Homo sapiens: one gene and its partner. The protein of the gene in region 2 interacts with the protein of the main gene of each other region in a pairwise test. Each region holds a gene or a part of one and is shown on either strand. Other genes may lie near its edges.

Region 1 (3,500 bases), on a different chromosome or scaffold from region 2:
AGTCTTACTCTTGTCGCCCAGGCTGGAGCACAGTGGTGCGACCTTGACTCACTGCAATCTCCGCTTCCTGAGTTCAAGCGATTCTCCTGCCTCAGCCTCCCAAGTAGTTGAGACTATAGGTGCCCGCCACCATGCCCAGCTAATTTTTGTATTTTTAGTAGAGACGAGATTTCACCATGTTGGCCAGGCTGGCATCGAACTCGTGACCTCAGGTGATCCACCCACCTTGGCCTCCCAAAGTGCTGGGATTACAGGCATGAGCCACCACGCCTGGCCCATGCAATTTCAAAATAGCGGTATCAGTGTCATTGTTAACACTGTCATTATTAAGACGGCTGAAGTCAGTTTAAGAATTGTGATTCATTTGTCTTTATATCCCTGTGTGAATGCTACGGACATGTAATCAATATATCGTGTTTTAAAGTAATGTTAATTGTCCTTTGGGTACACCAACTTTATATACAGTGAGGTTCGTTTGTTCAGTATGTTTGAAAGTTACAGGGATTTCTGTGTTTTCCTTTTTGAAATAGTTCTGTTTTAAATTATGTAAAATCTTTGAAACAATAAGTTGTTTCAAAAAAAATACACTAAAACAAGATACACTCAAAAATTCAGTTTCCATCCCTTTCCACTCTACATTTTTCCTTCCTCTCCATTTTTATTTTTTGATTATCCTTTATTGTTTTTTAAACGGTATGCATATCAGTGTATCTGAAAACCGCCACCTTCTAACATTTAAGGTAGTAGACAGTATATACAGATTTGAACCTTGCTTTTTCACATAATAGATAGTTGAGGTCATTCCATAGCAGTACACAGAAACTCATCTTTGGTCTTAAAACTGCATAGGTACTTTAGTCCTCTGTTGACAAATGTTGGGTTGTTTCAGTCTTCTGCTATCACAAATAATGCTGCAAAGAATACATTTGTTCATATGTCATTTCATCCTTGGCAATTTTGCCTCTGGAAAGTTCCTAGAAGTCAGATTCCCAGGTCAAAGGTTAAATGCGCATGTAATTTTGCTGGATATTGTTAAATCCCCCTACAGAGCATGCACCACTCAGCATTCCCCTCAGCGTTGTATGAGAGGGACCATTTCTCCATGGCCTCACCAGCAGATTTGGTTATTGTAGCTCTGGGCTTTTACCAATTTCACAGGTTAAAAATAGTATCTAAGACAGGCGTGGCAGCTCATGCCTGTAATCCCAGCACTTTGAGAGGCCGAGGAAGGCAGATCACTGGAGGTCAGGAGTTCGAGATCATCCTAGCCAACATGGTGAAATCCTGTCTCTACTAAAAACATAAAAATTAGCTGGGCATGGTGGCACATGCCTGTAATCCCAGCTACTCAGGAGGCTGAGGAAGGAGAATATCAGGAACCTGGGAGGCAGGGGTTGCAGTGAGCAGAGATAGCGCCACTCCACTCCAGCCTGGGCGACAGAGTGAGACTCTGTCTCAAAAAAAAAAAAAAAGCCAGCCGAGCTTGGTGGCTTACACCTGTAATCCCAGCACTTTGGGAGGCTGAGGCAGGTGGATCACCTGAAATCCGGAGTTTGAGACCAGCCTGGCCAACGTGGCAAAAACCGGTTGCTACTAAAAATACAAAAAATTTAGCCAGGCGTGGTCGTGTGTGCCTGTAATCCCAGTTACTTGGGAGGCTGAGGCAGGAGAACTGCTTGACCCTGAAAGGCAGAGGTCAAGTGAGCCGAGCTCACGCCACTGCCCTCCAGCCTGGACGACAGAGTGAGATTCTGTCTCAAAGAAAAAAAGGTATCTAATTTTTGTCTCTTATGAGTAGTTTGATCATCTGTTCATATGTTGAATGATTATTTTCAGTTCTGTTTCCATGAGTCTTAGTTCATATCCTTTACCCATTTTTCTGAAGGGCTACCAGCCAAATCTCATGTTCAAGAGTTTTTCCTATAGTAGAGAAACCTATTCCAAATGAAGCAAAGTTTTGAACGTAAAATAGAAACCATAGAAGTGCAGTGTTAGAAGAAACAGGCTCCTCACGCGTTGCTGGTGGGAGTGTCAGTTGGTACAGCTCTCTAGAGGGCTTTGTGACAGGAATTGTCCACATAAGAGATACATGCACCCTTTGATCAAGCAGCTTTACCTTTAGGAAGTTATCCTACACACATACTGGGAAATGGATACAAGGATTTAATGTAACATTGTTTTAATAATAGCAGCTTGGAAACAATGTACATGTTATCTTTTCAGGGAGCTGACTGAATAACTTACAGTATTGGTGTAAGTTGGAATATACTATGTAACTATGAAAAAGAATAAGGCAACTGAAGAAGTACTCATGAGAATGATCTCAAAAAGCAATTACATAAAAACAAGGCTCAGAACTGTATAGTATCCTCTATTATTCGGGCTTTTAAAAATCTTTTAATATGCATAAAATAATTCTTACAGGATATATTAAAAACTGGCAATCATTACTGAGATAAAAAGGAAATTTACTTTTTACTGTACAGTCTTTTTTTTTTTCTTTCTTTTGAGACAGAGTCTCGCACTGTCGCCCGGGCTGGAGTGCAGTGCTGTGACCTTGGCTCACTGCAACCTCCACCTCCTGGGTTCAAGCAATTCCCCAGTCTCAGCCTCCCAAGTAGCTGGGATTACAGGCACCCACCACCATGCCCGGCTAATTTTTGTATTTTTAGTAGAGATGGGTTTTCACCATGTTGGCTAGGATGGTCTCGAACTCGTGACCTCAGGTGATCCGTCCGCCTTGGCCTCCCGAAGTGCTGGGATTACAGGCGTGAGCCACCACACCTGGCCCCAAGTTGTTGTCTTTTTCTTAGAGATTTGAATACGCTCTTTATATGTTCTAGATACAAGCTGTCTGTCATGTATGTGTTGCAACAAAAAAGTGTCCTGCTCTTGCCATTCTACTTCCTTGTGGTTAGCATACTTTGTGTAGTATTCAGGAAATCTTTGCCTACCTAACCTAAGGTCATGATAATTTTCTTCTGTGCTACCTTCTAGAAGCTTTATTATTTTATTATTACTTTTATATGTAAATCCATAAACCACCTGAAATTAATTTTTGTATATGGTGTGAGGTTGGAATCAAAATTAGTTTTTTTTGTGTTTGGTGGTGTTGGTGGTTTTTGTTGTTGTTGTTGTTGTTTTTTACTGTAGAAATACCCATTTCTCTTAGCAACATTTATTGAAAGGACCATCCTTATTTCTCTGCAGCACCGTCTTTGTCTAATTTAAGTGTCTGTATATATGTGGGTCCATTTCTAGACTCTGTTTTGTTCCATTGGTCTATTTTTCTACCTACCCTTGTGCCAGTCTTTGTTTTACCCCTAGCCTTATACTTTAAGTCTTGATAGAGTCAGTCATCCCACTTTCTCATTTCTCTTCAGGACTGTCTTGTATCTTGGCCTTTTGCATTTTCATATAATTTTTAGATCAACTTGTCAATTTCCACAAAAAAAAAAAAAAGTTCTGAGATACTGATTGGGATTGCCTTTCATCTACTG
Region 2 (3,500 bases):
AAACAGAGGATAAGAAGGACAAGCCAAATGCCCAGAAGAGAGTCCAGAAACAACCTTAAATAAATATGGGACCGTAATATATGATGAAAGTGGTGTTTGAAACCACTTGGAAAAAGGTTAGTTATTTAATTAATGCTACCAGGATACATAATTAGTCATGTGGAAAAAAAACTAAAAACATCAATATCACTCCTTAAACTAAAATAACTTCCACAGGAATCAAAATTCAAGTGTAAATTTTAGATGAAAATATATCTACATTCATATAGAGAGATAGTCTTTGAGAGAGAAACACCTATCTAAACAAGTAAATACAGAAGCCGTAATAAAAGATGTCAATAAGAGTATGTAAAAATCTAAGATTTCTCTAGGGCCTAATATAGACTATAAAACAAGCAAAGAAGAAACAGACAAGTGACAATGTGGGGGAAAATATTTGCAACAAATGTGCCAAATGGTTAATTACCATATGAAGAGTTTCTACAAGCCAAAAAGGAAAGAAAAACCAAAAAAAAAGTGCATAAGCAATTGGAAAAGGAAAAAGAAATAAAAATGGGCTATAAATTATTAAGTTACTCAACCTCATGGATAAAAAGTGCAATTTAAAATAATAAGATACCATTTTAATGTAGCAGTTTGACAAATACTTTAACATTTGCCAAACCCAACTTCCTCAATACTTGCGGGTAAGGAGAAACAGAGGCACTCATTCACTACTGGTAGGAGTGAGGAGTGGTACTCTTGAAGGAGTATTTGACAATAACTAAAAACAAATTTTAAAGTACATATTTGTTTCAATAATGATTGTAATAAAAATTAGGCATGATTTAAATGTGCAAAAACAGGGTCCAGGCAAATAAATATAATATATCCACACGATTCAACAGAATATAACAGTTAATGTGTAAGTTGTATTAAAACAAGGTGCAGAACAATAGGCTTAATATGATACCATTTGTGTAAATATTTATGAAAGATATAAACAAATCCTTGTATAGTCCTACATATTTTCTGAAAGGATGACCAGAAATTTAAGTTTGGTTGTCCCTCAAGTGCAAGACTAAAAAGCAGCATGTACTTCTTAAACTTTTTAATGCCACAAATTATATTTTTTATCATGTGCACTTTATTTTAAAAATAGAATATAAAAAGTAAACAGTGTAAATATTCCATAAACATTTGCTTTTAATTGAAACAATTACAACTAACATATTCAGAATATCTACTATGCGGCAAATTTTGTAGCAGGGGCTGGGTCTTCTAAGTATCAAGCTATAATAACTGAAGAATTCAACTGTCTTTCTACAAACACTTATTCTACATACAAATAGCTCTTTTTACACAAAGTAAGGGAATACTATTTTTCCTCTCACCTACTTACTGTCAATCCTTTCACATTAAGGAATAAATTCTCTCAAGACATACTTTCTTCCTTGAAATTATTTCACCCACTTTATTATCACACAGATAAAGAATATTGTTTTTATAAATTAAGAGTGATTTAATCATTAAACTAAGAATGAACTTAAAATGGATTAGGCTCTATCAAGAAATGTGGGTTCAGATGCTAGGTCCACCAACAAATAATATAGTAATGAATGGTTACAGTAAAGTCACATCAACTCTTCAAGCCCAGATTTCTTTGTACGTGAATATTATCAATTTCATAAGAGTGCCATATAAAGAAATTAAACATTTACATTCTTTGTATTCTGACATGAAGTGACAATAGGCATAGCCCATATTTAAGGAAAAAAAATACCAAGAGATGCCTATTAAAATTTAATGAGGAATATTACTATTACATTTATTTATTTAACTAAAGTACATACTCTAATTTGTAAACTCATCCTGAGTTCACTGAATTCAGTTATATTTTTAATTTCCTTTAAATATGTAACATGGAGTCTGTGAACCCAAAGGGCAAGGAAAGTTCAAGTTCAATAATATAAATGCTTGTGTTTTTTCCTATCATCCATTTCATTGTATCTAAGACTACCACACAGATTTTGTTGCCTAATTCATCTTTTTACTTCTACTTTTATCTCTCCTTCAAAGAATTCAAATTGTTTCTTGTTCCTACGCATGTCTTTTACTATGTACCACAATGAAAGTTATGCATGTACATATAGCTATAACAAAAATCAATTACAATAAAGTAACACTGTTTTCTTCCTGAGAAGATGGATATAAATGTTAAAATTTAAATTTTTTGTTTAATTTAAATTAAACATTTAAATTTTTTGTTTAATTTAAATTAAACATTTAAATTAAATGTTTAATTTAAAATTTTCTTTTCTCCAAATAAGCCAGGCAACATTATTATAGTCCATAATTCAAGACAGAATAACTATATTTAAATCCACAGAAACTAGCATGGTACTCTAGGAATACTACTACTTAGAGAATAATAAAGATAAAATTTAATTCCTCCCCATTTTTACATCAATCATTATACTATTTTCAAAGAGTTAAGCATTGCAACTAATAAACATCCAATAATAATACGCAAAAGAAGGGGAGTGGAGGATCAAGGAAAAACACTTCAAGATCGCAAGGTACATTTCAATCCACTATTCTGTCCATTGATATGAATAATGATCTATCTCGGAAGAAAAACACCCAAAATATTAAACTAGATACAATTTCTAAACACATTACAATGTACCACATACCAGTCAAAATAAATACTGAGCCTTTATGTTAAAGCTATTTCCTAAAAATTGTCTCTAAGAATAGAGAGCGTAGTTTCATTATCAACACTTCCAAATATTTCTTCTGTGTTTCTCTAACTTGATATTCAATTCTAAACTTTTGTTTTCAAACTTTGAATATACAAGGGGGGAAATAATGTATAAAAAATAATGTAAAAATACTGTAAGATTTTCCCTAAATGCATAACAAACATACGCTAAGTAAGGATTAGATATTAACGGAAATCTGAAGTATTATATATATATCTTTCACTTTTATAAGCCAAATAAATTCTATCACAAAATGTGACTTCTCTTTGAGTGAGTTAGTAAACTCTGTATTTTTGTTTTAACGTACCCATTTTCAGATTTTAACTACAACAGCTCCCTTAACTGACCTCTATTTAACTGTCTGGCCTTAGCCAACACTTTTTTTTTTTTTTTTTTGGCCCATGGCATGCTGACCATTCTTAACCAGTATGCTATTTTTTGTATTATCAGGTACTTCTGTTCTCACTAGTTGGGTTACATGCTTAACAAGTCAGTTGGTTGTTCCCAAACCTGTTTATGCCAGTTTACTTGTTATAGTTCTTACATATCTTAAACATTATTCATGTCTAATGACTACGAGTGCAAAAAGGAACAGTTGTTTCTATATACTAAGTTAAATGTAAACTAAGTAGGCCAGGCGCGGTGGCTCATGCCTGTAATCCCAGCACTTTGGGAGGCTGAGGTGGGTGGATCACTTGAGGTCAGGAGTTTGAGACCAGCCTGGCCAACACAGTGAAACCCCATTTCTACTAAAAA

Evidence for each region.
Region 1: the proteins of CERT1 (region 2) and POM121 interact in a two-hybrid assay, tested with the Homo sapiens proteins (one large-scale study listed by BioGRID and IntAct).

What each region holds. Positions count from the first base shown.
Region 1 is NC_000007.14:72,931,595-72,935,094, forward strand, and holds part of POM121 (nuclear envelope pore membrane protein POM 121), read left to right. Parts: intron 1-3,500. UniProt on the Homo sapiens protein: Essential component of the nuclear pore complex (NPC). The repeat-containing domain may be involved in anchoring components of the pore complex to the pore membrane. When overexpressed in cells induces the formation of cytoplasmic annulate lamellae (AL).
Region 2 is NC_000005.10:75,501,630-75,505,129, forward strand, and holds part of CERT1 (ceramide transfer protein), read right to left. Parts: intron 1-3,500. UniProt on the Homo sapiens protein: Shelters ceramides and diacylglycerol lipids inside its START domain and mediates the intracellular trafficking of ceramides and diacylglycerol lipids in a non-vesicular manner.